Homo sapiens: one gene and its partners. The protein of the gene in region 1 purifies or fractionates together with the protein of each later gene. This does not show direct contact. Each region holds a gene or a part of one and is shown on either strand. Other genes may lie near its edges.

Region 1 (4,333 bases):
AACTCATTTTCTGTTGTGCAGATTTATTCAGGAAACTTAATTTTAGGTTGTTGAATAGAAGTTTTGATCAGATAAAATTGAATTAAAAAAAATTTTTTTTGAGACAGGGTCTTGCTGTTATCCAGGCTGGTGTGTAGTGGTGTGATCACGGCTCCCCGCAGCCTCAACCTCCTGGGCTCAGGTGATCCTCCCACCTCAGCCTACCGAGTAGCTGTAACTACAGTGCATGACACCATACCAGGCTCATTTTTGTACATTTTTTGTAGAGAGAGGGTTTTGCCATGTTGCCCAGGCTAGTCTCAAACTCCTGGCATCAAACAGTCCTCCCACTCTGGCCTCTCAAATGTTGGGATTACAGGCATGACCAGCCAATTATTTCAAGGAGTTATTTTTTTTCTTCTACTTTGGGGGAAGATGAATTATATAAGTCTCCATTTTAGGAGTATTTCTACCAAAAGAACTATTATCTTCAAATATATTTTTGGATAGTACTATAGATATACTAATTTTTTTTTAAATTTCTAGTAATTCTTTTGAAGATTTTGTATAGCTGTCCAAAGCCAATTTCTGTCTACCTAATTTCAGCAAGATTTCACTCTTTTCATGTTACTTTTGTCCCAGAACAAATTTCAAGTGCTTTCTCTTCACCTGTGCATTCTTCCCCCTGATTAGTCTCTGGCTTTGTATTACTTTCAGTCAGAGACGACTTTTTTTTTTTGAGACAGGGTCTCACTCTGTCACCCAGACTGGAATGCAGTGGCACAGACAAGGCAGCCTTGACCTTCTGGGCTCAAGCAATCTTCCTTGCCCTCAGCCTCCTGAGTAACTGGGACCACAGGCACGTTGCCACCATGCCTGGCTAATTTATTTTAATTTTTATTATTTTTGAGACAGGGTATTGCTCTGTCACCCAGGCTGGAGTGTAGTGGCATGATCAAGGCTCACTGCAGCCTTCACCTCCTGTGCTCAAGCAGTCCTCTCACCTCAGCCTCCCCATTAGCTGGGACTATAGGTCCACACCACTACACCAGGCTAATTTTTGTAATTTTTTGGTAGAGACAGGGTTTCATCGTGTTGCCTAGGCTGGTCTTGAGCTCCTGGGCTCAAGCGATTCACCTGCCTTAGCCTCCCAGGTGTGAGCCACTACACTCAGCCTTTTAAAATTTTTTACAGAGATGAGGTCTTGCTTTGTTGGCCAGGCTGGTCTAAAACTCTTGGGCTCAAGCAGTCCCCTCTCCACAGCCTCCCAAAATTCCGGGATTACAGGCGTGAACTTCGGTCATTTCCTAACTTTTACCCTTCCTAATGACACTCCAGAGCTTACCTTCTTTACTTTTGCTTCTTAAGTTAACTAATAGACAATTATTGTATGTGGATATTGCATTAAGTTGTCTTAGGATACCCTTTTCAGAGGAGGACAGCTTTTGACAAATTGCTGTCGCGGAAAAAAAAAGTATTTGGCAATTAAGAGTTGCATTTACTGAAATCTCTGTTGAGAGAGGGGAAGTTACGTTGTCTCTAAAAGAAAAACTAAAAAGAAAAGGGGAAGTTTTAGCAAAGTTGTTAAAGCCTGACACTTAAGTCATACTACCTAGTTTTGAACTCTTAGCCCCTGCCACAGACACGGCAGCCCCTTGAACCTTCCTGGGTTCAAGCGAGCCTCCTACTTCAGCCCCCTGAGTAACTGGGACCACTGGCCTGTGTCACTGTGCCTGGCTAATTTTTTTTTTTTCTCACATGGGCAATGTTGGGCAAGTTAAATCGACTTCTTTGTGCCTCAGTTTCCTCATCTGAAATGGAGATCATACTGCTATGTACCTGATACAATGTTTGTGAGGATTGAATGTGCAGAGTTCTTTTTTTCTGTTGTTGTTGTTTTGAGACGGAGTCTCACTCTGTCGCCCAGGCTGGAGTGCAGTGGCGCGATCTCGGCTCCCTGCAAGCTCCACCTCCTGGGTTCACGCCATTCTCCTGCCTTAGCCTTCTGAGTAGCTGGGACTACAGGCACCCGCCACCAGGCCAGCTAATTTTTTTGTATTTTTAGTAGAGACGGGGTTTCACCGTCTTAGCCAGGATGGTCTTGATCTCCTGATCTCGTGATCCGCCCGTCTCAGCTTCCCAAAGTGCTGGGATTACAGGCATGAGCCATCGTGCCCGGCTGAATGTGCAGAGTTCTTAAAACCGTGTCAAGAACATAAAATAGTTATTTGTTCTTTCATATAATGATGATTTTGAGGGCCTGCGGATCTTGACATGTTATCAGATTGGTCAAAAAAAGATTAAACCATAGTTGGTATTGTCCTAGTTCCTGTTACCAGAATATTCCATCTTTCATCGTTGCCTTCTCTCATAGTTTTATGTATCAAAAAGTTTATTGTAAAGCTAGGGCGGGCACGGTGTCTTGGGCTGGTAATCCCAGCACTTTGGGAGGCCAAGGCTGGCAGATCAGTTGAGGTCAGGAGTTCGAGACCAGCGTGGCCAACATGGTGAAACCCCGTCTCTACTAAAAATAAAAAATTAGCTGGATGTGGTGGTGGGTGCTTTAATTCCAGCTACTCAGGAAGCTGAGGCAGGAGAATCACTTGAACCCAAGAGGCAGAGGTTGCAGTGAGTTGAGATTGTGCCAGTGCACTCCAGCCCAGGGGACAAAGTGAGACTTGATCTCAAAAAAAAAAAAAAAAAAAAAGTTATTGTAAAGCTAGACACGGTGGTATTTGCCTACAATCCCAGCTGTTCGGGAAGCTGAGGCAGAAAGATTGCTTGGGTCCAGTAGTTTGAGTCTAACGTGGGCAAATATATGAGACTCCATCTCAAAAAAAAAATAAAAAATAAAAATAAAAAAATGTTTACTAGTTTTTTTCAGTAGCCTTTTATTATAGTAGCAGTACATGTGTATTGTAGAAATTTGGAAAATACAAGTGAAAAATAAAAACATCAAATTCCCGTCAGCCAGAGACTGCTATGAAATGTTTTGAGCACATCCTTCTTGAATGTTTTTTAAATCCTGGTATGTATATTTGTATTTTAAAATCAAAATGCATTCTTACCCATTCTCTTTTGAACCTGCTTTTTTGTAGCTAATGATCTCTAGTGTGTCCATTTCAGTAAAAATTCCATTATTAAAGTGCTTTAAAAATCGTCTCTTACAGTACTGCCACTATGTTGCTGGGCTGGTCGGAATTGGCCTTTCCCGTCTTTTCTCAGCCTCAGAGTTTGAAGACCCCTTAGTTGGTGAAGATACAGAACGTGCCAACTCTATGGGCCTGTTTTTGCAGAAAACAAACATCATCCGTGACTATCTGGAAGACCAGCAAGGAGGAAGAGAGTTCTGGCCTCAAGAGGTAACAGATTCAGGGTATTTTGGGGGAAAATAACTTTAGACATTCTCTGAAAAATCCTTTAACTCTTGTGGTTGCGGGTGACAGAAAAACAAGTCAGGCCTCCCCCAGGCAGCATAAGGGGATGTGGAAAATAGGATAGCTTGACATGAGTTTGCTTCAGGTAGACTGGCTGACTCCCAGGATTCACACCACGTAATCAGTATATTCAAGCCTTGCTGTCCTTGATTTCTTTCAGACGGTCTTTCTCCAAGTGGTGGATATGGTAACAACCCATGTGCACTAGCTTAACAAAAAGTTCTTAGGAATGGCTTTGTTCGGCCTGGCGCAGTGGCTCATGCCTGTAATCCCAACAGTTTGAGAGGCCAAGGTGGGCGGATCACCTGAGGCCAGGAGTTCGAGACCAGCCTGGCCAACATCGTGAAACCCCGTGTTTACTAAAAAATACAAAAATTAGCCGGGCGTGGTGGCAAGGGCTTGTAATCCCAGCTACCTGGGAGGCTGAGGCAGGAGAATCGCTTGAACCCAGGAAGCAGAGATTGCGGTGAGCTCAGATTGTGCCACTGCACTCCAGCCTGGGCGACAGAGTGAGACTCCCTCTCAAAAGAAGAGGAAGGGCTTGGTTCTTCTGCTCAGCCCTGAATCAGTTACTGTTGCTACACAGCTGAGTTCTCTGGCCTCGCCTGGATTACGTCTACACAGTACACACAGAATGGATTTCCCCCAAAGAAAGAATTCTGCAGCAGGAAGGGGAAAGGGATGGCAGGTAGACAAAAACTCCAGGTGTCTGTAATAAGGGACAGGGTCGATCTTTAATTAAAACATGGACAGGGAACAGAAAGCTTTTGATACTGATTTTGTTCAGAAGGAAAGTAGAAAATTTTATGACTGTTCCCTGAATTTATTCCAGCATTTACCTTTTGCTTTCCATAAAAGTGTTTCCTGCAGCCAAGTACTTTAAAGTTTTAAAAAGACGGGTGAGGCTAAGTGTGGTG
Region 2 (3,947 bases), on another chromosome or scaffold:
CTTCTGAAATTGACAGCATCTGTCATTCTGCCTTGCCCTTGCAATGTCATAGGCAGCATTTGCCCACCTCAGACCTCCCAGGCCAGCCCCCTGGGCCCCTCCTTCCATTCAAAGCTCCTAGTTGGGTACCAGAGGGTTGCCCGCTTGTAGCCTCTTCCCACCAGTCCAGTGGGTGATGGTTAGGCCTAGTTCCTGCTCTTCCCCACCTTGTCTTTGGACAGATTGCCTCGGATGATGGCCTGCGACTGACAGTCTCTCAGCTCTTCTCAGCTCTCCTGAGGCTGCAGCTGTCAGCTCCCTGATCCTCAGCACTTGCCTGGACCAGTGCGGGTCTGCCACGCCCTGTTCAGCCATCCCTGTCCTGTTGTGTCGTGCAAGCCACATCTGTCCACACCCCCACCACCCACCAGTGCTGGCTCTCCTCTCTTCTCCCCTGTGCTCCCAGCATGCCTCGTGGCCGGTGCCGTCAGCAGGGCCCTCGCATTCCCATCTGGGCAGCCGCCAATTATGCCAACGCACATCCATGGCAGCAGATGGACAAGGCGTCTCCTGGGGTGGCATACACCCCCCTTGTGGATCCCTGGATTGAGCGGCCCTGCTGTGGGGACACCGTGTGTGTGCGAACGACCATGGAGCAGAAGAGCACAGCTAGTGGCACTTGTGGCGGTAAACCTGCAGAAAGGGGTCCCCTAGCTGGGCACATGCCCAGCTCCCGACCCCACAGGGTGGACTTCTGCTGGGTACCAGGCTCAGACCCAGGCACCTTTGATGGCTCCCCGTGGCTACTGGACCGCTTCTTGGCCCAGCTGGGCGATTACATGTCCTTCCACTTTGAGCACTATCAGGACAACATCAGCCGTGTCTGCGAGATCCTCAGGCGCCTAACAGGCCGAGCCCAGGCCTGGGCAGCCCCCTACCTTGATGGGGACCTGCCCCTGCCTGACGATTACGAGCTCTTCTGCCAGGATCTCAAGGAAGTTGTTCAAGACCCGAACAGTTTTGCTGAGTACCATGCTGTGGTTACCTGTCCCCTGCCCCTGGCCTCCAGCCAGCTGCCAGTGGCCCCTCAGCTGCCTGTGGTGAGGCAATACTTAGCTAGGTTCTTAGAGGGCCTGGCACTCGACATGGGTACTGCCCCCAGGTCTTTACCAGCCGCCATGGCCACCCCTGCTGTGTCTGGGTCCAACTCTGTATCTAGAAGTGCTCTGTTCGAGCAGCAGCTGACCAAGGAGAGCACCCCTGGGCCCAAGGAGCCCCCAGTCCTGCCCAGTTCTACATGTAGCTCCAAGCCTGGTCCTGTGGAACCAGCCTCTTCCCAGCCAGAGGAGGCAGCCCCCACACCTGTCCCTAGACTGTCGGAGTCAGCTAATCCTCCTGCCCAGAGACCAGACCCAGCTCATCCAGGAGGTCCAAAACCCCAGAAAACAGAGGAGGAGGTTTTGGAGACAGAGGGAGACCAGGAGGTGTCCTTAGGTACCCCACAGGAGGTGGTGGAGGCCCCGGAGACCCCAGGAGAGCCACCACTTTCTCCTGGGTTCTGAACACAGCCCAGGTGGGAACAATGCTGCCCCTCATGATGAAGTGGCCTGTGTGGCTTGAGCGCCCCATAGTCCCCAGTCAGAGCAGAGTGGTGTCCCCAGATGACTTCAGACCCCATAGCTGGGCAAGATGCGCTTGTTTTGGACTCTGCGCTGAGCAGAACCAGCTCCCCCAACTCCAGCAGAGCTTGACCTCCGCCCTGTGCCCTTTCCCTGCTGCTGGCTCTCTGCTGCATCCCTGCCCGTCTTCTGGGAGTGCCGTCTCACCCAGGCCTGCTCCCACGAGGGGGTCGTTTTGTAGATCAACTCTCAGCAGATAGTTGCATCATCTTTGTCACCTCCACCCCCATAAAACACCCCCCTTGGTGTCTTCCACACTGGCTGGGACTGAACTGGGTCTGCCACGTCTGCCCTGTTGGGACCTCGTTCCTGTATGGGGTTTCTGTGTCTGTCCCCCTAGCCCCACCCTCTCTGCTCCCTGTGACTTCTGTCCCAGCTGGAATGTGAGGAAGGCTGCCTGGAGGAAGTGGCCACTTTGATTCTGGGGGATGAGTGGGATAGCATCTTGGCAAAGAATGATGTTTCCTGTGGGATTACCAGCAGTTCTGGGCAGCTGGAAGGTTTGGATGCAGGAAGGTGGGATGCAAGCCCCTTGCCAGGCTCAGCTGCAGGCATTCGCCCTTTGTGTGTTAACACTGTAGCTCTAATCGTGCCTGGTGTTCTGAAGCAGGCTCCTCTTCCCTGCTGCTGTGCTGCCATCCCCTGCTCACTCCGCACTCGCATGCATTGCGGATTCAGCACTTAAGCCCTAGTGTGTAAATGACTTGGATCTCCCTCCTGGCAGACTGTGACCCTCAGCACAGGGGCTCTGTCTTAGTCAGCTCTGTGGCCTGGTACACAATTGGTGCTCATTAAACACGTGTTGGATTACTGGCTGAGGTGGTGCAGTGGCTGCCTACCAGCAAGTCTTTGTTTCCCATTCTGTCAGGAGCAGAGGCCTGGCCATGAGCATTCCAGGTCAGCATTGCAGCTGTGGTTTCTGGCAGGGGCTTTGAGGGTCCAAGGGTCTGATCAAAGAAGCTGGGTGGGGCTGAGTAGGGGGTGGGTGGCTCTGCAGGTAGAGAACTGACTTCCGAGAGCTGTAGGTGAAGTGAGGACCAGGCAGCAGTCCAGAGCTGTGAGGCCCCAGGCCCAGAGGAATGGAATGAAGAAAGACCTGTTCCACACAAGGAGGGGTTTTCTAGTGGAAGCTGAGCTTGGAAGCTCCTGGAGCCAAGTTTACCACAGGATAGGCAGGTACAGCCGCCCAGTGTGTGCAGTGTGTGCCCACTCTGGTGCTTGGACAAGAAGTTCAAGTCCCTTTCAGGTTTACAATTGTGAAAACAACAAAACAACACCTTCCTGGAAAGTAGGAAGAAAAAGCAGAAATGTGAATTGGAAATACAGCCAACTATTTTAGGAAAAACTAATTAGCAAGCATCTGATTAAACTTATTCAGAAACTGGCCGGGAGCAGTGTCTCACACCTGTAATCCCAGCACTCTGGGAGGCCAAGGTGGGTGGATCACCTGAGGTCAGGAGTTCAAGACCAGCCTGACCAGCATGGAGAAATCCATCTCTCCTAAAAATACAAAATTAGCCAAGTGTGGTGGTGCATGCCTGTAATCTCAGCTACTTGGGAGGCTGAGGCAGAAGAATTGCTTGAACCCAGGAGGCAGAGGGTGTGGTGAGCCGAGATCACGCCATTGCACTCCAGCCTGGACAACAAGAGTGAAACTCCATCCCAAAAAAAAAAAAACAACAAAAAACAAAAACCTTATTTAGAAAAATATAAATTGTTGGGATTATTTTATGGTAACTATCACTAGAAAAGGCTCTGGGTTCAGATGGTTTTATGTGTGAGTTATTTCAGGGCACAGATACCTTGTAGGTAAAACAACTGGAAACCTTGGAAATAGGTGGGAAGCTATTTTTAGAAAGCAGGTATAGCCCTGGTAGCAAAGCAAGTGAGCTGGCAGAAGAAACCCATTTTCAGTCTTGATTCTGGTCAGATGTGAGAAGTCCCTGGATGTCCTGGCCCAGCCCCATGCTTCTGTGCCAGGTCACAGCTGCCCTCCGTCCGATGACTCAGGCCCCATCCCCCCTTTTGTGGGTTGGGTCAGACTGCTCCCTGATGCCTACCTCCAGTGCACTGTGGCCTGGCTCACCTGTGGGTCTGGCAGTAGAACCCAGAGTTGCTCTCTAGGATGGACAGCCTAGTCACCCAGCTGACCTTTACCCTGTCCCACAGGCTTCTGGACAGGCCACCTTCCCCATCTCCCTTTAGTGGACCTGAAGTGGATACTCCAGCCTGGGATTGCTGCCTTCTCTTTTGAACCCTGTCCTATTGGGGCTTTGGGGCTTTTGTGCC
Region 3 (4,333 bases), on another chromosome or scaffold:
GGCGGATGGTGGGTCCTCACTGAAACTCTGGCTTTACTAGACTAACAGGAAGTCATTAGCCTACAAAGCCAAGAAAGAGAGAAACTCACTCTATCTTTGGGTAGTTGTTCTTTGTTTTGTAGACATCTTCATACAGTTCTCTATTTTCTTCTGAAATTAGAAGAAAACCCTACTTATATTCATTATAATAGCAATAGTTCAGATTCATATTTAACAAAAAGTATTAGATACTTACTAGATGCTAGGTACTTTGATCTTTCTTTTGTTAAATAGTTTTTACTGAAACTCACCCACATGTTTTTAAAAGCATATGGTAAAAATACTTAAACCTCTATAAAAGTATGTATAAATGAAAATTAAGACTCATTTCCACCTGATTCCAAATTTGAACTGATTTAGTCAAAGAAAGTTGGTTCTTCAATAGATTCCTTCCTTCCACCCTCCCTCCTTCCTGTATTTAATACATAACAATCAGAATTTACTAAGCATCAGGCATTGCGCTGAATGCTGGGGCAACCATGGAAAATGAGATATATCTTGAATAATCTCTCCCTTCACAGCATGGCTTTGGCCTAGCCCAACACATAAGCTTAACATACACAGTTATACTTTAATTCAATCCTGAAACAGAGTCTAATGGAAAGAATTTTGAATATCAGGGTCAGGATTTTTAGGTTCAAAACTCAACTTTAACACACAATGATCTTAGAGGAGTCACTTCTCTATGTTTCAATTTTCTTTTTAAAATGAGTGTACTGGGTTTAATGATATTTAAGGTTGTTTTTCCCTCTAAACTTCTGAGATTCTAAGATCAATCAGAGTAACATTTGATTCTCTCCACTCCATTGCTTTTTCTTTTTCTAAAATTTATTTTAAAATTGACAAATAATAATTATATATACTTATGATATATAACATGTTTTGATAATTGTATACATAGTGGAATGACTAAGTCAAGCCAGTTAATGTATTCATTACCTCACATATTTTTTGTGGTGAGAATTTTAAAATCTACTCTCAGCAATTTTCAAGTATATAATACTTTTGTTATTAACTATAATCACTGTTGTACTATAAACTTCCTGAAGGTACTTCTCCTAATTGAAATTTTGTATCCTTTGACCAATACCTCCCCATTACTTTTTCATTCATGAATTCCTTCATTCAACAGATTTTTTTGAATATCTAACATGTACTTGGCATTATGCTAGGGGCTGGAGAAAATGGTATGTATAAAGAAGGTAATAATCTAGGAGGGGAGACATTAATTAAAAAGTCACATAAGTATAAAATTACAACTGTGACAAGTACTATGAAAAAGAAGTCCATGGTACTATGAGATTGTACACCAAGGAGAATATTCCCTGTGGAAATAATGATTGAGCTGAGATTAGAAGATTAAGAGTCAGTGAAACAAAGGTACCCAGGGGAGGAAAGAGCATTCCGGAAAGGGAGGGAAAAGCATATGAAAATATCCTGCTGTTGGAGCTTGGCAAATTATACAAGCTAAAAGAAGGTCAGCATAACTGGGTCTCAAAGATGAAGATTGAGTACAGTGTGAGATGAGGCTCCAGAGGTCTGTAGGGGTAGGTTAGTCAAGGACTCTAGATCATGTCAGAAGCCAATCTTAAAAGTATTGGAAAGCCAAGAAAGTGTTTTAAGTAAAAACAGTCCTATAATCAGACTTACACTGTGAAAAGATCAGGAAGGAAGTAAACTCACTTTTACCATAAGAATGCTCTTACCAGCATCTTCATGTTCCTGATTCTAAATGCATTTATTAGCACATACCTTGGTATTGCTGTTAGCACATATCTTGGTATTGCTTCTCTTAGCTTCCCACAAATTGGCATTATTAAAATATGAATAATTAAAAGACATCTTATCACTAATCAGCCATAGAAGCATTCTGCAATTCCTACTGGCAACTTCAGAAATGTCTTCCTATACTTACCACTACTTGAGGCAAGTGAGCTAGAGTAGTTCAGCTTCGGTCTATGGGAGAAAATAACAAAGACCATTATTGTACCTTTAAAGTCTCATCACATTCATCTTGCTGAAAGACTGGAATGTTACTTACACCTCTTTCCTGGAGTACTCGACATCATCATATATCTCCTCCGAGATGGAACTTGTCTTAGAGACCCCTAGGTCTGGAGTTTCTTTAGTTGACTCCAAAACCTCCAGATGCCCACCTGAAAGGAAACCAGAAAACCTGAAAAACATCACATCAGCTGCCATCATAAAGTCATTCACACACATCACTGGCAGTGGAGGCAAGCATAAGAAAAGGCAGATTAAATGGGCTAAAATTGGATTACAGTCTTGGTATGTATGATCCTTGGGCAAGCCACTTCACTTTGTAGAGCCTCAGTTATGATTCTCTGAAGTTGAGGATAATGATGCTAACACCGAATCATGTGGTTTTGGCAAGGATTAAATACATATTTATGAAGGGTGCTGGTTACCTAGTAAACTAGTAACTCCCTTCTTTGATGGTTCTTCCTTTAATCCCTGACCTCAAACTTTGAAGTCTACCAGGGTACATCCCTGGGGCTTATCTCTCTACATCTAGATGATCTTATCCAGTCTTACGGCAGTTCTTAAAGCAAAATTTCTCAGACAAGTCGATTGAGCACATATCAATATATATTATTCATTAATTCATTCTGGAGTTAGCCAGAAGATAGTGTGCCAGGTTAACAAATGTATAGGGATTGTTTGCACAAGTAGATGCTGGCTTACTTCACAGAGTTGTAAACTTGTCATAACCATAAAACTGCCACCTCTTTATCTGTTGGCATAGGTTAATATTTAGGGTATGGGTAATTCATAGCCATATTCAGATATGAACTATTAATCAGAAATAGAAAGTAATATACTTGAGAAATAAACAACAAGCACATTAACTGGTATCTATTAATTAAATGAACCAAGCAATAAGATTTTATCCTCTGACAAGAAGTCAGTGAGCGTGTAGGCCCCAAACCATCTCAATGAATGTCAGCTCTCAGAGGCATAAGGTCCTACTTTTTCTCAAGGAGTTATCAGTAAATTTCTCCAATACAAAATAAAGATGCTGAACACACACAGTTTCTTCTTAGTCTGCAGCATTTATTTCCTTCCTCAATCCTTCCTTTTGGCTGAAGCAAATGCAAAAGTTTATGCCTTCATTTTAAAAACACTGACGACTCTCAAATTTACATCTCCAATTTAGACATCTCTCATGAATTCCAGATACTTTATCAGCCTTCACACCATTTCCTTTTGGTTGTCTAAACATATTACATTCCAAACCAAAATCATAATTTCTCTCTGCAAGTTTGCTCTTCCTGAAGTTTATTCAATCTCATAAAAGGGGCAATTCCATCCTTTATGTTGCTCAGGCCCAAAACCTTGGAGACATCCTCGATTCATTTCTCTCTCATTTCTCACTTCCAATCCAAAGCCATCTGTCCACTGTAGTTTCAAATTATATTCCGATTTCAAATACATCTCAGCAATTCTACCATAGTATCCTCCTCCAAGCTACCACCATTTCTCACCTAAATTATTGCAATAACCTCCTAACCGGTCTCCCCGATTTATCTCACATTTTATTTTCAAGACAGAAGCCAGATGATTTTTTAAAATGCAAATCAGGTCATGCCTTTCTTGTACTTGCAAAAGCTTTCAGTGGTTTTAAAAATCTCATTTATGGTAAATGCTAAAGTTCTTGCAGTGATCTACAGAAGTCCCTTGTTATTTCTGTGACCCCATCTCCTACTATACTCTTCCTCGGTTACTCTGTTCTAGCCACACTGGCCTCCTTGCAGCTCCTCCAACATATCTGGCCAACTTCTGCCTCAGGGATTTGCACTTTTTTTCTCTTCCTAGGTCATTCATATCCTAGATACACATATGGCTCTCTTCCTCAACTACTTGAGGTTTTTGAAGTAATCTATGAGCACTTTAAAATGGCAACCTCTATCACCTCTACCTGCTTCTTTAATTCTCTTAGCTTGCTTTATTTTTTCATATTTACTATTAATACCATTCAATATAGATCTTTTATTATTTATTGTCCGTCTCCTCTGATCCGAAAGTAACCTCTGTGAGAAAAGGAATTTTTGCCTGTTCACTGCTATACACCCCCATTTCCTAGAACAGTGCTGGGCACATAAAAAGTACTTAATATATTTGAATTTCGAATGATTTGAATGCATGTGTCTTCTCACTGGTGAATTTAGTGCATTACATTTATAGTGTTTACTGATATTTTTAAATTTTTATCTATTATCTTAGTACATATTTTTATTTGTTCCATGTTTTTCTTATCTTCATCTGACTAAAG
Region 4 (4,333 bases), on another chromosome or scaffold:
AAAGTCAAACCATAGTATATATTACCCCTTTTACATTACAAAAACATAATACAGTTTGGCTACACAGAAAGAATTGACATTACATGCCAACCAAAATCTCACAACAGTCAATATCTTCATGTTCTATGAATTTTCAACTCTATACCACTTTCTTCTTCCAGAAAAAAAAAGGATTATTAAAGAATATAGCAATAAAAATCTATCCAAAAACGCCAAGGAAAACCTGATTTCTTAAGAAAGTAACTTCAATTACTATAAGATTCTCAATTTATGATTTAAGTATTTCTCTAGATATGTTTTATATCATACTGAACAATGCAAATTACCAACATATCTTTCAACCCAATTTCAACATTTTACCATATTTCTCATATTTTAGAAAAGATCAAACCTAAGTAATTTTTTAAATGTAGTCTTCACCAAAGATAAAATTAGAATCAAATGCAATAATATAGAAGAGAAATACTACAATGGGCACTGGAGATCATGACAAAAGAACTCAGGAACTTTGAAGTGTAGGAGTAGAGGTGATACTCAAGATATTTAGCTATTTAACAACTGGCAGGGCATAAGGACCATCTAGTCAGAATAGACGCTTGCTGTAGCAATGGGTCCAGAAACACTGGTAGAGTGTATTGGTAGATACCACCTGAGCATTGCTACCAGTTGATAGTAATGTTCAAATGCTATTGATTTTGTTTTCAGAAAAACTTTGCAATAACTAACCAGAAGCATCTCAATCTAGTTTCTCCATTTTGTCCCACATTCAACCTCTATCAATTACAGAGGAATGCATTTTCTGGTTGTACTCTAATACCCTGAGGACTGCAGTCATGTTAGATATACACTGGTGAATAATCTGCACATTATCTTGGGTAAATACATGCAAATATACACCTGTTAAAAAAACTGACTTCTCTGCACAAGCATATATCATGAGGCTCCAGTATGGAATTGAAATGAGTTAAAATGACTACATTATTGCAGGATTGATGTTAACACCACTCTCACACAGCTACCTCACATTTTTAATCTTCATTTACATGTTTTGATTTCACATACATTATTTCTTTTTTATTCTTTTCCTTTATCTTTCTTTCTCCTCTTTTCCCCCTCTCTCTCCTCTCCTTCTCTCTCTGTCTCTCGATCTCTCTCTCTCTCTCTCTCTCTCTCCAGGATCTCATCTGTTTGAGGATGCAGGAGTACAAATGCAGGGGTACAAATGCAGGGGTATGACCTTGGCCTCAACTGTTTCCGGGATGCAGGGGTACAAATGCAGGGGTACGACCTTGACTTCCTGGACTCCAGTGATTCACTTCAGTTTCTTGAGTAGCTGGGGCCACAGGTCACCACAACTAGCTAATTTTTTCTTTTTTTCATTTTAGTAGGGATGAAGTCTCACTATATTGCCCAGGCTGGTCTCAACCCCTGGATTCAAGCAGTTTGCCTGCCTCAGAATCCCAAAATGCTGGGATTACAGGCATAAGCCACCATGCCCAGCCTGATACATTATTTCTTATTTCCTTTTGATATTAATTCAGAAAACGTGAAAATCTACTATTTTCTAAATAAGGTATAAAAAGCAAACAGTGTAGAAAAGAAGACAGAAACAGAACCACCTATTATAGTCCCCTGGAAATAATGTCATAACACAGGTATTCTCAAAATGGTCTGGAATCACAGAGATTTCCCAGTAGAGTACATGTTCCATTTCATCTTCAAAGACAACCAGGAGTTAAACAAGAGAATAAAGAAAGAATGCAAAGAATTCCATCCTTGAAAAATGTACTTGCATAAAAATATAGTTCACTAGAGACTGGAAGACAAGATAAAATAAAAAATGATGGCCGGTAGTCCCAGCCACTCGGGGAGGCTGAGGCAGGAGAATCGTCTGAATCCATGAGGTGGAGGTTGCAGTGAGCTAAGACTGTGCCACTCCCCTCCAGCCTGGGTGACAGAGGGAGACTCCATGTCAAAAACACCAAAAAATCTGATTAAGGAGCTAATTAAATACTAAAGAGTATGAACATTGATCCCATGAAATGCCATAGAATTGTGCTACCCAATAGAACTTTCTGCAGTGATGGACATATTCTGCATTGTTCTGTCCAATACAGTTGCCACTAACAACATGTGATTATTTAGCCCTCAAAATGTGGCTAGTTGGCGGGTGAAGTGGCTCACACCTGTAATCCCAGCACTTTAGGAGGCCAAGGCAGGCAGATCACTTGAGCTCAAGAGTTCGAGACCAGCTTAGGCAACATGGCAAAACCAAATTTCTATAAAAAATACAATAAATAGCTGGGTGTGGTGGCGTGCGCCTGTAGTCCCACCTACTTGGGAGGCTGAGGTGGGAGGATGGCTTGAGCCCGGGAGGCAGAGGTTGCAGTGAGCTGAGCCAGACCTTGTCTCTAAATAAATAAAAGAAATGCAGCTAGTATATCTAATGGACTGGAATTTTACATTTTATTTTTCATTAACTTTGTTTGAGACAAGGTCTTGCTCTGTCATGAAAGGTGGAGTGCAGTAGTGTGATCATCACACACTGCAGTCTTAATATCCTAGGTTTGAGTGATCCTCCCACTTCAGCCTCCCAAACAGCTGGAACTTACAGGCCTGCACTGCTATACCCAGTATGTGTATATACATATATATTACACACACACATATATATACACACACACATATACCCCCTACACATGTGTGTGAATATTATACACACACACACACACACATATATATATATAAATATAATAAGCAGGATCTCACTATATTGCCCAAGCTGGTCTCAAACTCCTGGACTCAAGAGATCCTCCCACCTTGGCCTCCCAAAGTGCTGGGATTACAAACGTAAGCCACTGTGCCCAGGTAACATAAGTTTTTAAATAGCCACCTGTACCTACTGGCTACCATATTGGACAGTGTAGCAATAAAGGATTATAAGCACACACATAGTATGATAGATTTACATCTCAGAGGGAACACCATCTGTTCAGTGTTGAAGGTAAATTGAAAGAGAGACAGGTGAAGTGGAGAAAAGTTAGAAACAATAGCACAATAATCTAGTGATGTGAACCTAAACTAATGTAAGGTCAATTGAGCTCATAAAGCAGCAATATAGTCAAGAAATATTTAGCAATTGAAATTGGATGACTGTATGTGAATGGTAAGCAAAAGAGAGACATGGGATGACTTAGGTTTCTAGTTTGAGAAACTGTGTAGATGATGGTGTTATTCTCCTTATAAAGAGAGTACAGCAAGATTTGTCCAGGGATAAAAATACTGTTTCAAGCTTAAACTTGAAAACAAGTCTGAATCATCTATCCCGTAAGAAGTTGGCTGGCTATACATGTCTGTAACTCAGAAAGTAATTAACAGCTTAGAGGTGGCCATTAAGGAAATGAATTTTGGATGGATCACCCAGGGAACATGGACAGTGAAAGCAGGGCCCAGAAAACACTGTCAGTTGGGAGGTGAAAGTCATTCTCTTCCACAAAAATTCAATGCATCTCGTTGTATTCTAGGAATCAGATTGGGCCTTTAGGGACCAAAGATGAGTAAGACAGAGGCCCTGCTCTCCAGACATTAGCTTGTAGAAGAGTCCTAATTAGGAAGAAGAGTTCATGGAATAAGAAATTCATGAAGAAGCTAGGCAAGAAATACTCAAGGAGGTAAGAAGAAAATCAGAAGAGATGTCTCAGAAGTCAAAGTAAGAACCAGTGCACTGAGTGCTACAGAAAAGGGGAAAATATCCATGAAACTGAGACAATGTGCTTATTAACCATCTTCTGCATGAGTAATTCTAGAGTGGTAGAATTAGAAGCCAGACTACAAAAAGCATAAGAGAGAATGAAAGGCATGGAAATGGGAACATTTCAATGGAAAATCTCTCTCCTGTCCTATGACAAGAGCTTTATTTAGATTCCCTCCTTAATGTCTTCTTAGGTATCTTCCTTTCCCATATCTTCAATATTTCCTTCTGTACTTGCTCTTTCCCCACTAATGGCATTTAAACAAGACTGGATAGTTCATTCTTAAATGGACCCCTTTCTACAGCTCTCATCCAATACTTCTCCCTGCCTGCACAGTTAAGAGTGAAATGAAATATATCCAAGCAGAAAAGGTCAACTGAAAATAGATTCAGTTACAGGGCAAGTTTGTAAAAGATTTATGCTGATTAGAGATAAATATTTAGTCTTCTACAAAAATATAATAGTTTTTGTTATGTTATGAAGTGGCTTTTCAGATGGCTTTGTCTAACAGGAATGATATTTAAGAGCAGCCTTCTCCAAATAGCTTCAGCTCTTGCTGCCACATTCCCAAAAGTTTAGTT
Region 5 (4,333 bases), on another chromosome or scaffold:
AAGAACTCAAAGCAGGCCTGTTTATCCTTTTCTGCAGGAGATTTGGTCACAAGCCTGGGAAGAGCTGAGCCTGTCAGACCAGCAGCCCACACTTCCTCCCCACCTGCCTTTCCGCCTTCCTCATGCCCTGAAAGCAGAATGTCACAGATGGAGAGATGGTGTGGGTTGGTGGGAAGTGAGAGGCCTGTGGAGTCCACTGGTCCTGGGGTCTGCCCAAGCTCTCCTCCTTGCCAGCTACCTTTGGAGAGGAGCTACTCCTCTCTCAGCTCATTCAGTGCTGATCTCACAGAGGTCCAAAGTCAGCAACATGGGCACCACCTCCAGGAAGGCTTCCCTGACTCCCCTCCCCACCCAGCGCCGGGCAACCCCAGGCCCCTGGCCTTCCCTGTCACATTCTGTGTTGTCACTGCTTCTGTGTCCTCCCAACCCTACCAGGCTGTTCATTCATTCATTCCACGGAGCAGCTGCCCTTTGCCTGGGATTCATTCCAAACGCCTTTCCTGAGCACCTGTTTTCTCTAAGATCCTCTGTGAGGTGCTGGAGATACAGATCATAACAGCTAACCTGCACTGAGTGCTCATTATGTGCTGGGCATTTTTTTGAGTGCTTTACACGTATAATTCATTTCACCCTCACAACTCTATGATGAAGATGCTGTAATTATCCCCATTTTACATATGGGGAAACTAAAGCCCAAAGAGGTTAAATCACTTGCCCAAGTCATTTAGCCCTACCCTGTGCCACCAGCCACAGATACTGATGGGACCGGCCCCTGCCTCAGGAGCCTGCTTCTCACAATTTGGAAGTTTTGCATCTGTGTGTTTCCTTGTCTAATGCTGTTTCCCCCACAGACCAGAATCTCCAACCATGTTACATTTCGGTTGGATGTGTGTGTGAGCAGCACCAAATAAATGCTGCTTCCCTTTAAGGAAGAACTCACACTCTCTGCCCAGCATCTGCTAGCTGGACGCCAGACGGCTTCTCCCACCTGGGTCATTTCTTCTGCGTAGGCCTGAGAAGAAAACCCAAGTCCCCAGATATCCCAGTCCTGCTCCCTCCCCTGAACCTAGCTCGGGACCCTTCCAGGCCAACAGCACCTGCTTACACACCACTGTTCACAGGGAAGGTGGTGGGAACTGTGAATCTGCAAACCCCAGCTAAGTCCCCCTAAGGGAAGGCCTCCCTGCCATCTGGCACGCCCTCCCTCCAGCCATCACTCACTGGACTCTTCCATCAGCTTCTTACTGAGTTGCTCGTTCACGAAGCCATCGAGGGGATGGGCAAGAAGACTCATGCTGATGGAGTACCCACCTGTGTGCCAGGCCTGGACAGGCACCCCACTTCCTTCATCTCATTTAATAACAGTTATTATCAGCCCCAATGTACAGGGAAAAAACAGAGGTGCAAAAGTTGAGCAAGTTGTCCATGGGGCAGCTTGCACTGCCTCCCCTGGCCCGGAGGGTGTGGCTCTGTGCCAGGCACACTGCTAGGCACTCAGAGGGAGGGGAGGATTCGGTGGGGGCACATAGAATCTAGTTTTGACAAGCCAGCAAGGGAAGCAGACCAAGCAGAACCCCAATCCACAGACCACAGTCAGTGTGCAGAGGGCCATGAATCAGCAGCAGAGGAGGCTTGGATCCCACCTGCATGGGAGGAGTACTGGAAGCTTATAGCAGGCAGCATCTTTGGACCTGGTTGAACTCCTTACTGCTCTTTCCCATGGTCACAGCAGGAGAAAGGGTAAGCCTTGGCCTACAAAGCTCTGGTGCCCAGTGTGTGTTTGCCACCACCCCAAAGGGGGCAAAGGGAGGAGAAGCTGGCTGCCCTGCCAGTGACCCCGCTGTGGCCCGGCCAGCCTGCCTCCAGTCCCGCCAACTTGGCCTGGCCTGGCCCAGCCAGTTCCCAATCACAGGGTCTCCTCTGCCAGCTAATGACCATGCTGCCTGCAGCTCAGGCCACCACCCTCCTTTGGGCGAGGCAGCTACCCACACAGCCTGCTGGCCCAGACAGTGGCCAGGCCAAAAATCACAGCTGCCCGTCATACCACATCCTCTGGCCCTGGTGCTGTGGTCTCCTCCTCCTCCCTCCAGGGTCACGAAAGACGATGTAGAAAGCTGGAGCTACAGGGGAGCTCAGAACCCACCCTGCTCCCCATAGACATGGACACACGGGACCCCAGAGAGGGGCCGACTCACCCCAGGTCACACAGACAACCAGCCAGCCTGTGCACGGCCTAGGGCCCAGGTCCTTCCTGGGCCCCATGCTCAGTCCAACACTGCCCTTCCTTAGCCTTGAGAAAAAACCTTGTCCAGGCTTTTTACACACAAAGTATGCTTTCAAGGTACTTGGGTGGAGGTGAGGAGACAGGACATCTTCTAAGCACAGATTTACAATTCAAACAGATGCAGCTTGGCTCCCTGCTCCCTACCTTTGAGCTGTGTGACCTCGGGCAAGATCAGGTACCTCTCTGAGCCCCAGTTTCTAGGGGATAACAGTAGCTACCTCAGGGAGTTTGTGTGAACAAGAGTGTCTATAAAACATTTAGCACATTGTCTGGCTCATAGTAAGTACTCAAGATATCAGCTGTTGTTGATATCATCACTGTAGTATTGTGTGGATACATTTTACAAACTGCAAAATGTTATGGATAGTAGGTATTATTTTTTACTATTACTGCTGAATGTTAAAGATTCAGAGGGGGCATGACCAGAGGGTTGGGTAATCCAGGAATGTTTCTGAGGGAATTTATGACCTCAGTCAGGTCTTGACAGGTGGGGAGGTAAGTGGAGCAGAGGCAGGGATGGCGGTTCTGATGGGAGGAACCACAAACAAAGGGGCTGTGATGGGGCCACATGTGGTGTGTTTAGGAGACAGTGCAGAGCAATGAGCCAGAAGGCCGGGCAGAGGCTAAGGTGACCAAGGACCTGAATGCCATAACTAGGGCCTGGTCTTCATCTTACAGGCCGTAAGGAGCCACAGAGGCTTCTAAATGGGGGCTCCATTAAGCTTTCTGAAATGTGAGTTCTGTCTAACATTCAAGGCCCTCTCCTATATGGGCATTCACCCCTCACTAACCCCACCAAGCCATCCTCCTCGCCCCAAGTTCTCCCTACCTCTCGGCTTACCACGCTATCCCACCTGCCCCGCCACTAGCCCACTAGCTCACACTCATGATGAGGCACCCCCTTGTTGAGTGCCTAAAGTGCCGTGTGTTTCACACATGGGACCTCAAGATGATCCTTAACAGCCTTGAGAAGTGGACATCACAACCGTCATTTCACAAAGGGGGAAATGGAGGCCTGATGGGATCATGTGTCTTTCCCATGCTCTCAGTGAGGCGGTGGCACAGCCAGGATTCCTTCTTGGAGGGATGTCAGGACCCCCCGTCTTTGCAGCAAGTTTCCTCTAGCTCCTGCCCAGACAGCCACCTCCCTGACAAAGCCTTCCTGGTTACTCCAGTCCTCAAGGGCCTCCCCTCCACCCCTTTCTGCCCTGTACCCTCCCCCTTACTCCTCCCCGTCACCACCTCTCTGGAATCAGAGGCCCACTTGATCCTAGCTCAGCTAGCTTGGTTCCCAGTGTTGCCTGTGGGACCATCTGGCCCCCAACAGAAGAGACAGGACATCATCAACCCCAGCTCTCTCCTGTTGGGGGCCAGATGACACTTTCTCCCTGTCCTATCCTGCCTGCCCCCCCATATCCAAGACTGCTAACAGCACAGACAGGAGCCCCCACCTCCTCTGGTAGGGTTCAGAAGCTCACTGAACATAGAGCTATTTCCCTGAGCCTGCCCCCAGCTGAGGGGAGTATTAATTATTCACTGCACCTTGGTGCCTAGGGAGGTCAGACAATGGGCCCGAGGGAATGGACACCAGCTCCAGGCACCACAGCCCTGCCAGCAGGAAGCCAAGGGAGGGGGTAAGAATCCAGAGCCCCTTGCCGGTGTCCCCAAGCAGACTGATTCTAGAGGCTATGAGACTAGGGGAGTGTGACCCACACAGCAGCCTGAGCTGAGCAAATTCAGGTCTCTGAGCCTGCCCTGCAACCATATCCTGCGTTCTAATCGAAGACAAGTCTGAGAATTTCCCCAGACTTCCTGGTCAAACTTCAAGCTTCCTTTTCTTCATAGGGATGGAAACGGATATTTGGCCAGGCACTGCATCTTTGTAGCTCATTTAATCCTCGCAACAACCTGCTAAAGGAGGTATTCTAATTTTATAGGCTCAGAGGGATGAAGTGATTTGCTCAGTGCCACTCAGCTAGTGGGAGGCACAGTAGACTCACGCCCACCTGGTCTGTCTGATTTACCACTATCTGGGATTCACCAGTTACT
Region 6 (4,333 bases), on another chromosome or scaffold:
AATTACAGGTGTGAGCCACTGCTCCCTGCCGACACAACCATAGTTTTTTGCTGGCTTTTTTCCTGGAGAGGGTTTCAGTGTGATCACCACCTTGCCATTCTGCTCTTATCCCCAGTCCCCATCATCCCAAGTTATCTGTACAGCATTAAGCATGAGAAGAATGCTACAGAAATCCAGACGGCCAGGCCAGTGCACACTGCCTCCATCTCAGACAGCTTCCAGAGCATCTTCTCCTATTATGATAACTCGACTATGGTCACCGGGAATGCTACCAGAGACCTGACACTTCATCAGACCGCCACACAGCACATGGTGACCAACGCGTCCGCTGTTCCTTCCGACTGTCCCAGTGAAGACAAAGACCTCCTGAATGAAAACGTGCAAGTTGGTCTGTTGTTTGCCTCGAAAGCCACCGTCCAGCTCATCACCAACCCTTTCATAGGACTACTGACCAACAGGTAGGGCAGACTACTTTAGTCAAAGAGTTTGATATTTGTATCAGTCCTAGCTTATGTCCTTCCTGGAATTCTGCTTCTTACTCATTGGTGAGAGTCTGGAAAATCCATGGTGGGTGAGCTGGGGAAAACCCAGTCCCCTTCCCCTATGTCTCTGTTCCCAGATAACCACAATTTCCTATTCTATTCTCCCTTCTGTTGCTCAACAAGTAAGAAAATATTAAAGAAGACAGAATAAAGAGGACCTCTTCCACCAAGTGGGAGGACTTTGGCCTGTCTAAATGCCAGGTTTCGTAAGTGCATTTGTCAGAATCGCCCTTGGCAGCAGGAACTCTACAGCCACCATGGCTGTCATCCTATTTTATGAGCCATGTGGCCTCCTCTTATCTCCTACCTCAGGCCATGCACTTCTCTGTAGAGAGCCAAGGTGTCTTCTTTTGGAACTGGCATGTTAAAGCCTCTCACAGATACCAGGTAGGGAGTGTGGGAAAAGGTTGGACGCACTGGTGCGCAGATGGAGCTCCGAGTTGATGCCGAGGTCATGGGCTGTGTTCTTCCCTTCTGCTGGCTACGTAGCCACGTCCACGTGCATGAAAGGAAGAGAACTGAGGCTGTTGTCTGGATAATCCAAGCTGCCCAAACTAGCTTCAGATGAATCAGGCTGTTCTAGATTTTTTTGAACCCACATTGTTTGGAATAACTGTTTACTTCTCCATTGTTGGTGAAGTGTTTGTTCTTCTGTAGCTGAGGTGGACCAGTTCTGCCTGGTCCGTGGGGGCTCAAAGCTCAGGACAAGGGCCTTGCAGCTGAGAGGAGGAGGCAGGCCCCCAAGGTGTCAGTGCAAGGAGTGGGAGCTGGTACAGTTAAGTGTTGGTGGTGGGCTGCCAAGTGCGCAGTGTAGCTACCTAGGTGAAAGTTACAAAACACCAGAAATGGTGGGGAGGGGTGTGCCCAGAGTCCTACCTGCAGACCAGGCCCAGAAGCAGGAACAAAGACTAGACTAGAGATGGAAGAGATGGTGGCGAGGAGAGGGTGGAACTAAGGAGGCAGGGGAAACCAGGGCTGGGCTAGGCTGTAAGAGGCCCCAAGTGCTGGGCTGAGAAAGGAGTGGGATTCTGTGTGGGGCAGTTGGGAGCCATTAGAAATTCCAAAGCCAAAAAGAAATGAGTGAATCAAGCACTATTTTAAGCAGGGTAGGTGGGCAGGGAGCAGGGAGAACTTCACATTTCCTCTGCCTTTGGCGTGGGGAGTGGGGCGCAGGACTGGCTGCATAATTTGTGGGTCTCGGTGCAAAATGAAAATGTGTGCCCCACATTCAAACATTATGAAACACTTCAAGGTGGCAGCAGAGCATTAAATCAACCAAGCTCTGAGAGCAGAGCCCTGTGCGACTCTAGGGTTAGGGGCACCGAGAGGTGAGGAAGCCTGGGGTGGTGGCTGGGGCTCAAGGAGGGGATGGCAGATCTGGCCTTCCGCCAGCACAAGCTGCCTTGGACACATGGAGCTTGAGTCGGACAGGAGCACATTCTCAACATCTGCAGTTGAATTTTCTGGATGGAAGGGTGCCATTGAATTGATTTCAACAATCTCAAGCCATGTCCAGCCCTCTAGTCTGTGCAGAGCAATATTCTAAGGCTGCTACATAAAACATGCTAAGCAAATTAACCCAGCGAAGGGCTGACTGTGAGCCCATTAAGAAGGTGACATTCAGTGACTCCTCTGTTCTCAGGAGAAAAACCAAACCGACCTCAGTAGTTGCAGGATTGTTTTCTTTCCTTTTTTCAAGACTAAGAATGCTTCTTAAAATGCATCTGGTATAATTACAGAAAATAGCTCAGGGTTTTGTATTCTGAGAAAGCAAACAGCTCAAATATTGTATGTGAAAATTGAGGACATTATCGTAATAATACCTTGCCAATCACTTGGGTGGAACGTTACTAGCCGTACAGTGTAATACTTAGAAATTCGGCTGAAATGATGTGAGTACTCCAATCTTCCAAACGCAAATGGCAAATGAAAAGCTTTTTTAAAAATCCCATTCTTATTTTTAATGCTTTGCTTATGCCATGGGGAAGAGGCTTGTTTAAAACCAGTGAGCTCTTTCCCCTGTTAAATACTCCAACGGCTTTGAGGCTGTAGCCACACCAGGCTCATGTTTGGGACTTCAAAAACATTATCTTCCATTTTGTGACTTGTGAAATTTAGTCTATTCTCATGGTGAGTAATCCACTTTAGAAATTATCTAGAGCAAAATTGTAATCCCCAACTGTTTTGTCCAGCTACCGAGCAAATTTGAAAATGATTTTCTAGTGCTGCCTGGTAATATGGAAGGACAAACAAATTTTTTTTTCTTTTTTTTTGAGATAGAGTCTTGCTCTGTCACCCAGGCTGGAGTGCAGCAGTGTGATCTTGGCTCACTGCAACCTCCACCTCCTGGGTTCAAGCAATTCACATGTCTCAGTCTCCTCAGTAGCTGGGATTACAGGCGTGCACCACTATGCCTGGCTATTTTTTGTATTTTTTGGTAGAGACGAGGTTTCACCATGTTGGCCAAGCTGGTGTCGAACTCCTGACCTCAGGTGATCTGCCCACCTCGGCCTCCCAAAGTGCTGGGATTACAGGCGTGAGCCACCGCCCTCAGCGAGCAAATAAATTTTCATATTGTGATCCTGATTTGTAATTTGTCTCATAATTTCCAAGCCCAGTAGATATGAATTTGGGGACTGGGCAGCTCTTCTGGACACTCCAAGATTCTGCTTCCCACCGCAGTTCAGATGGATTCAGAGAAGGGACAAATGTGCATTCCATTTGCCTTTAATTGTCTTCAAGGAGTTAACTTGTGAGCCATTGCAAACAGTCTTTTGATGTAAACTGTGCCAATCACATCCTCCATGAGCAAGATGTATGACTCAAGTCTTCAGTGTTGTAAACAAATGTGTTTAAAGGCTTTTTAAAATTGGTTAATATGTTTCTGATTAAAGAGTAGTTAAAAATATGGAGCATCAGAGCTTGCAGAGACTTTTCCTGAAAGCTTTTGGGCCAGTCCTAGCATTTTATAGGCAAAGGAGTTTGCAGTTCAGGAGGAGAAAGCATTTACCACAACAGTGGCAGGACTGTAGCCACATGTTCCGACTGTCCCATTTCAAGCTTTGTTCTTCCCCGCTTCCTGTTCTTCCCACCTGCTTACAATTATACAGCTTGTACCTTTAGCTACTAGAAATAAAGAATGCAGCTCAAAATCTGTCTTTCTTGCACTGACTTGGGCTCTTCCTGGTTGTACCAGGCAGAACTGCTGGAGACCCAGTGAGTTGCTGATTTTGCTACTTTTAATCAATGAGCAGAGAGTTTAGAAAAGATCAGCCTGATTCCTGTGGACATGGAACCTCCCTGGTCCCTGAAATATTCAGTCTTTTTCCAGTCCCTGATGTGAACTGGTCCAGCCTCGTGCATCCCTAAAGATGTGTGGGGAAAGCTTCCTGTAGTCAGGCTGGGCAGAGCTATTCTTTTCCAAAGCTGCTTGTTTTAACTGAAGTGGGACCCACTCTGAATCGAGACATTCTACACCACACCACACCATAACTGGAATCCTCTATTCACAGTCGTGATGGTGCCATGTGTGTGGCTTTTGTGGGTAGGAGTCACAAAATGTAGGCCGCCTGTTTATTTATTTATTTATTTAGACAGGGTCTTGCTCTATTGCCCAGGCTGGAGTGCAGTGGGGCTATCTCGGCTCACTGCAACCTCTACCTCCCAGGTTCAAGCAATTCTCCTGCCTCAGCCTCCTGAGTAGCTGAGACTACATGCCACCATGCCTGGCTAATTTTTTTTGTATTTTAGTAGAGATGGGGTTTCAGCATTTGGCCAGGCTGATCTCGAAC
Region 7 (4,022 bases), on another chromosome or scaffold:
GCTTCAACCACGTGTCTCCTCCCAGTCCTAGAGGCGAGAAGGCCCAGGTCAAGGTGGGGCAGGGCTGGCTTCTCCTCAGGCCTCTCTCCTTGGCTCACACAGATGACCACCTTCTCACTGTGTCCTCACGTGGTCTTTCCTCTGCATACCTCCTTGGTGTCTGTGTCCAAACCGTTTCATCTTCCAAGGACACCAGACAGATTGGATTAGAGCCCACCCTAACAACCACATTTGAACTTAATTACCATAGTCACATTCTAAGGTCCTGGGGGTAAGGGCTTCAACATAGAGATGTGGGGGAGACCGTTCAGCTCATAACACCCTCAGTACTTCCTGCACCTCTGAGAAAGGATATTTTCTTGCCTCATCACCACGGATTCCTCAACAATGATAGACACTGTCATGGGAGATCCAGCCTTTGTTGAAGTGGCGTCAGCCATCTCAGAGCTGCCTTCCTTGAGCCAGACCCAGCCATGGCTGTGGCACTGTGTGGCATTGGTTCACCCCGCACAGCAGCCCCTGCTAACTCTTTTGTGCCTGTGATGTGGGAGAGGTGGATGGACACCCACTGGCCTGCAGAATATCTGGCCTTCAGTATACAGGGAGGACTCGGGCTGGGAACTGCTTGGTTTCCCTGAGGGTGGAGAGCCAGGGGTGAGGGTGCAGAGTGGGCCATGTCTAGTGCCCACCTGCGTGGGCTGGGTCTGGGGCTCTCGGGGCTGTGGCTGGCAGCATAGATGGCTCCCAGGGCCAGGCCAGCCCCATCCTGGGGCCTGGTTTTGCTTTGTGGTGAGGGTCTGGGTGCTCAGCTGAGCCTGAGGGCCCTGTGAGATATGGGCAGTTTGCACCATGTCCCCTTGTGCGGAAGAGAACACTGAAGCCGAGGAATTGGCCAGAGTGCGGCCAAAAGTGACCTGCCCCACCCAAGGACTTCCACAACCCACTCTGGGGACGGGGGTTCATGCCAGCTGGGGTGGGCAGGCCCGTGTTTGTCCAGGTCTGTAGGGCCCTTCCCTGTGTCACCTCTATTGTCTTCCCGGGGGGGAGTTCTCCCTGCAGGCCCCAACCCTGACCTCTCTAGCAGTGCAGACAGCAGTTGTGAAGATGAAGTACAGTGAGACAGACACAACCACTGAGTGCAGAATACCACAGGCCGGGAGGAGCCGCGCACTTTGGAATGCAGTGGAGGGCAGGCAGCGGAGGGGAGTTCTGTGCCCTGTCTTGTGTTCCCACTCCTCCCTTCTCACGGCTGTTTTTCTTTCATTACTTCAGTAATTGAGCTGAAAGCTGAGGATCGGAGCAAGTTTCTGGACGCACTTATTTCCCTCCTGTCCTAGGGTGAGTTACAGGGGTTCTGCAGGGGTGGCTGCAGCAGCCCCCTCAGAGCCCGACCCTGATGCCCTGCTCTGTCCTCCCTCAACGGAGGCTTCTACTTGGGTTTCAGACCGAAGCAGGGTTCTTGAGATTGGAGCCAACACATTTTTCCCAAGCACATCTGTCCTTAGGCTGCCAGCAGGGCCACAATGGGGCATTTTGAGGCAGCTAATTTCATTAAGCCCCTGCGATCCCTTCAGAAAGAGCTGGTATTCACCCTCTGCTGACCACACTTGGGCTGGGCATCGCGTGTGACACATGTCACACACAGACTCCCTGGTGCTGCCCTCGAAGGCCACCTGGAGCCTCCTGTCCCACAGCCTTCGTGTCAGGCGCTGGGCAAGAGCCCGCAGAGCAGCCATCCGGGCTTTTGTGTGCTTGGCTCATGAGAAAGCAAAGCTGTTGGCAGCCGCTTAGCTGGGAATTCCAAAGCGCTGGTTCTGCTGGGGCCTTCACCAGCACACAGCTGTCCTGAGGGCCCCATTGGGATTCACTGGCAGGTCACTGTCCCGGGACACCTCCCACTGCCCCATGTGCTACCTCTTTCTTAAGGGTTCCCAGGAAATAGGCCTGCCTTGTGTCTTTGTAACCATCTCTCAGCCCAGGTTCCCCACAGGGAATGCCACATCCAGCCCTGCATCTCCCAGAGCCCTAGCCTGGAGGCTGCGGCTGTGGCAGATGGGCCCTGCCAAGACTCTGTTGCAGGAGGTCCCTCAGGCCAGGCCTGGGGTCCTCCCCACTCTCCCATCCGTCCGTCCATCCATCCATCTGTCCATCCCTCCAGGGGCAAGCACCTGTTCTCCTGTTGGGGCTGGAGTGGGGGTTTCTGCTGACAACAGCATAGGGGGCCTCAGGGACCCCACAGTTCCTCTCAGGGTGGCCTGGGCTACATGGGGCCCATTTTGGGCGCGGGGCTCTGAGTCAGACCCTCGGGGTTTTTGGCAAGTTCTGTAGGGTCATCAGCAGTGACCTTGGGCCAGCCACCTAATCAGGCTTAGCCTGTTTCCTCATCCAAAAATGGGGCCCACTCTCTCCTTAGACGATGAGTGTGAGCATCACAGGACTGCATAGGGTGGGGCGGAGGCAGAGGTGGGGCTCTCTGGCAGTGGAGTGGGTGCTAGAGGCAAACCCCTCCCCTGCAGCCTGCTTGGTGGTGATGTTATGCTGCTGTGTGTCCTTCCACTGAGGCAGGGGCACAGGTGGCCTGGGCTAGGAGGGCTGAGCAGCAGAGTGCCGAGGGATGGAGGGAGAGCCCCCATGGGAGGGTGCCAGGGGGCTGGCTGAGCAGCTGGGCGGGGTCCGTGAGGTAAGAAGGTGCCCGGGCCAGGGGGCAGGAGCTCTGATGTAGGACAGCTCAGCCCAGTCAAGGGGTGCTATGAGGACAGCAGGGGCCTCCGAGTCTGGGGTGGCCTCACCCCCACAAGCAGTCCTGGCTACTCAGCAGCACTACCCAGAGGGGACGCCTGGGCAGTTTCTTCAATTCGGTGGCACATCAACATCGTTTGAAACTTGTTTTTTCTTGTTTTGTTTTCTAGAATTTGATTCTTCCAGAATGACCTTCTTATTTATGTAACTGGCTTTCATTTAGATTGTAAGTTATGGACATGATTTGAGATGTAGAAGCCATTTTTTATTAAATAAAATGCTTATTTTAGGCTCCGTCCCCATTGTGGCTCTGGTCTCGAGGCCAGTGCTTGAGTGTGCTCTGAGCCTTCTGTGGGTCTTGGGCCCCAGGAGCCCTCAGTGCCTGGCAGGAAATCAGCATGGGGATTGGCCCCAAGGACAAGATCTCCTTACTCTGTCCTCCAGGCCCTCCGGGTGGCAGTGGACAGAGGTCAGGACCCCTCGGCATCCCCGCCTCCTCATAGCACCTGCACCGGCCACTGCCTGGTGGTGCCAGCCAGCACCTGGCTCTGTCCACCTACCACTTCCTCTGGTCCACCTGGCCTCAGCCACATAGCAAGTCCACCCTCTCAGCCATCCCTCCACCTGTGGGTCTCACCATCCAGCACTCTTTTCCAGGTCTTTGAAGGCAGGAGTGATTTGGGTAGGTTTTAAGTCAGTGGGGAAAAGCTCAGAAAGAGTGGCCTGGAAAAGAGCACACAGGTAGGTGGGGCTGGTCTTGGTGCAGCCCTTGGCAAAGGGCAGTGGGCACAAAAGGGTGAGAGCTGGACTGGAGGCTGGGCCCCTCCCCTCACCTCTGGTGGTTTGCACAGCTTCCCGGGACCCTTGAGCTGCCTACCCTGGCCATTTGGGAAAATTCAAAGGCTGTGCAGCTTCCTTTCCATGCCCTTTCTTTCCTTTTTTTGAGACAGAGTCTCGCTCTGTCACCAGACTAGAGTGCAGTTGGTGCGATCTCGGCACACTGCAACCTCTGCCTCCCGAGTTCAAGTGGTTCTCCTGTCTCAGCCTCCCGAGTAGCTGGGATTACAGGCACACACCACCACGCCCAGCTAATTTTTGTATTTTTAGTACAGACGGGTGTCACCACGTTGGCCAGAATGGTCTTGATGTCCTGACCCTGTGATCCGCCCACGTCGGCCTTCCAAAGTGCTGGGATTACAGGCGTGAGCCACCGTGCCCAGCCCCGTGCCTGTCCTTTCTTAGGAAAAGGCTTTCTTAGGAATGCCCTCCCAGGCAGCCTTGGG

The links.
Region 2: the proteins of FDFT1 (region 1) and RTL10 purify together in Homo sapiens (affinity purification with mass spectrometry; one large-scale study listed by BioGRID and IntAct). This does not show direct contact.
Region 3: the proteins of FDFT1 (region 1) and FYB2 purify together in Homo sapiens (co-immunoprecipitation; one large-scale study listed by IntAct). This does not show direct contact.
Region 4: the proteins of FDFT1 (region 1) and FAM174A purify together in Homo sapiens (co-immunoprecipitation; one large-scale study listed by IntAct). This does not show direct contact.
Region 5: the proteins of FDFT1 (region 1) and GDPD5 purify together in Homo sapiens (affinity purification with mass spectrometry; one large-scale study listed by BioGRID and IntAct). This does not show direct contact.
Region 6: the proteins of FDFT1 (region 1) and SLC18A2 purify together in Homo sapiens (co-immunoprecipitation; one large-scale study listed by IntAct). This does not show direct contact.
Region 7: the proteins of FDFT1 (region 1) and CDC45 purify together in Homo sapiens (affinity purification with mass spectrometry; one large-scale study listed by BioGRID and IntAct). This does not show direct contact.

The regions. Positions count from the first base shown.
Region 1 is NC_000008.11:11,822,875-11,827,207, forward strand, and holds part of FDFT1 (squalene synthase), read left to right. Parts: intron 1-3,149; coding exon 3,150-3,341; intron 3,342-4,333. UniProt on the Homo sapiens protein: Catalyzes the condensation of 2 farnesyl pyrophosphate (FPP) moieties to form squalene. Proceeds in two distinct steps.
Region 2 is NC_000022.11:19,848,761-19,852,707, reverse strand, and holds part of RTL10 (protein Bop), read left to right. Parts: intron 1-221; 5' UTR 222-446; coding exon 447-1,541; 3' UTR 1,542-3,947. UniProt on the Homo sapiens protein: Could induce apoptosis in a BH3 domain-dependent manner. The direct interaction network of Bcl-2 family members may play a key role in modulation RTL10/BOP intrinsic apoptotic signaling activity.
Region 3 is NC_000001.11:56,742,072-56,746,404, forward strand, and holds part of FYB2 (FYN-binding protein 2), read right to left. Parts: intron 2,196-4,333; coding exon 2,081-2,195; intron 1,996-2,080; coding exon 1,955-1,995; intron 151-1,954; coding exon 90-150; intron 1-89. UniProt on the Homo sapiens protein: Adapter protein that plays a role in T-cell receptor (TCR)-mediated activation of signaling pathways. Required for T-cell activation and integrin-mediated T-cell adhesion in response to TCR stimulation.
Region 4 is NC_000005.10:100,541,249-100,545,581, reverse strand, and holds part of FAM174A (membrane protein FAM174A precursor), read right to left. Parts: intron 1-4,333.
Region 5 is NC_000011.10:75,518,978-75,523,310, forward strand, and holds part of GDPD5 (glycerophosphodiester phosphodiesterase domain-containing protein 5), read right to left. Parts: intron 2,881-4,333; exon of another isoform or gene 38-2,880; intron 1-37. UniProt on the Homo sapiens protein: Glycerophosphodiester phosphodiesterase that promotes neurite formation and drives spinal motor neuron differentiation.
Region 6 is NC_000010.11:117,243,856-117,248,188, forward strand, and holds part of SLC18A2 (synaptic vesicular amine transporter), read left to right. Parts: intron 1-115; coding exon 116-458; intron 459-4,333. UniProt on the Homo sapiens protein: Electrogenic antiporter that exchanges one cationic monoamine with two intravesicular protons across the membrane of secretory and synaptic vesicles.
Region 7 is NC_000022.11:19,517,572-19,521,593, forward strand, and holds the end of CDC45 (cell division control protein 45 homolog), read left to right. Parts: intron 1-1,272; coding exon 1,273-1,337; 3' UTR 1,338-1,338; intron 1,339-2,909; 3' UTR 2,910-3,037; downstream 3,038-4,022. UniProt on the Homo sapiens protein: Required for initiation of chromosomal DNA replication. Core component of CDC45-MCM-GINS (CMG) helicase, the molecular machine that unwinds template DNA during replication, and around which the replisome is built.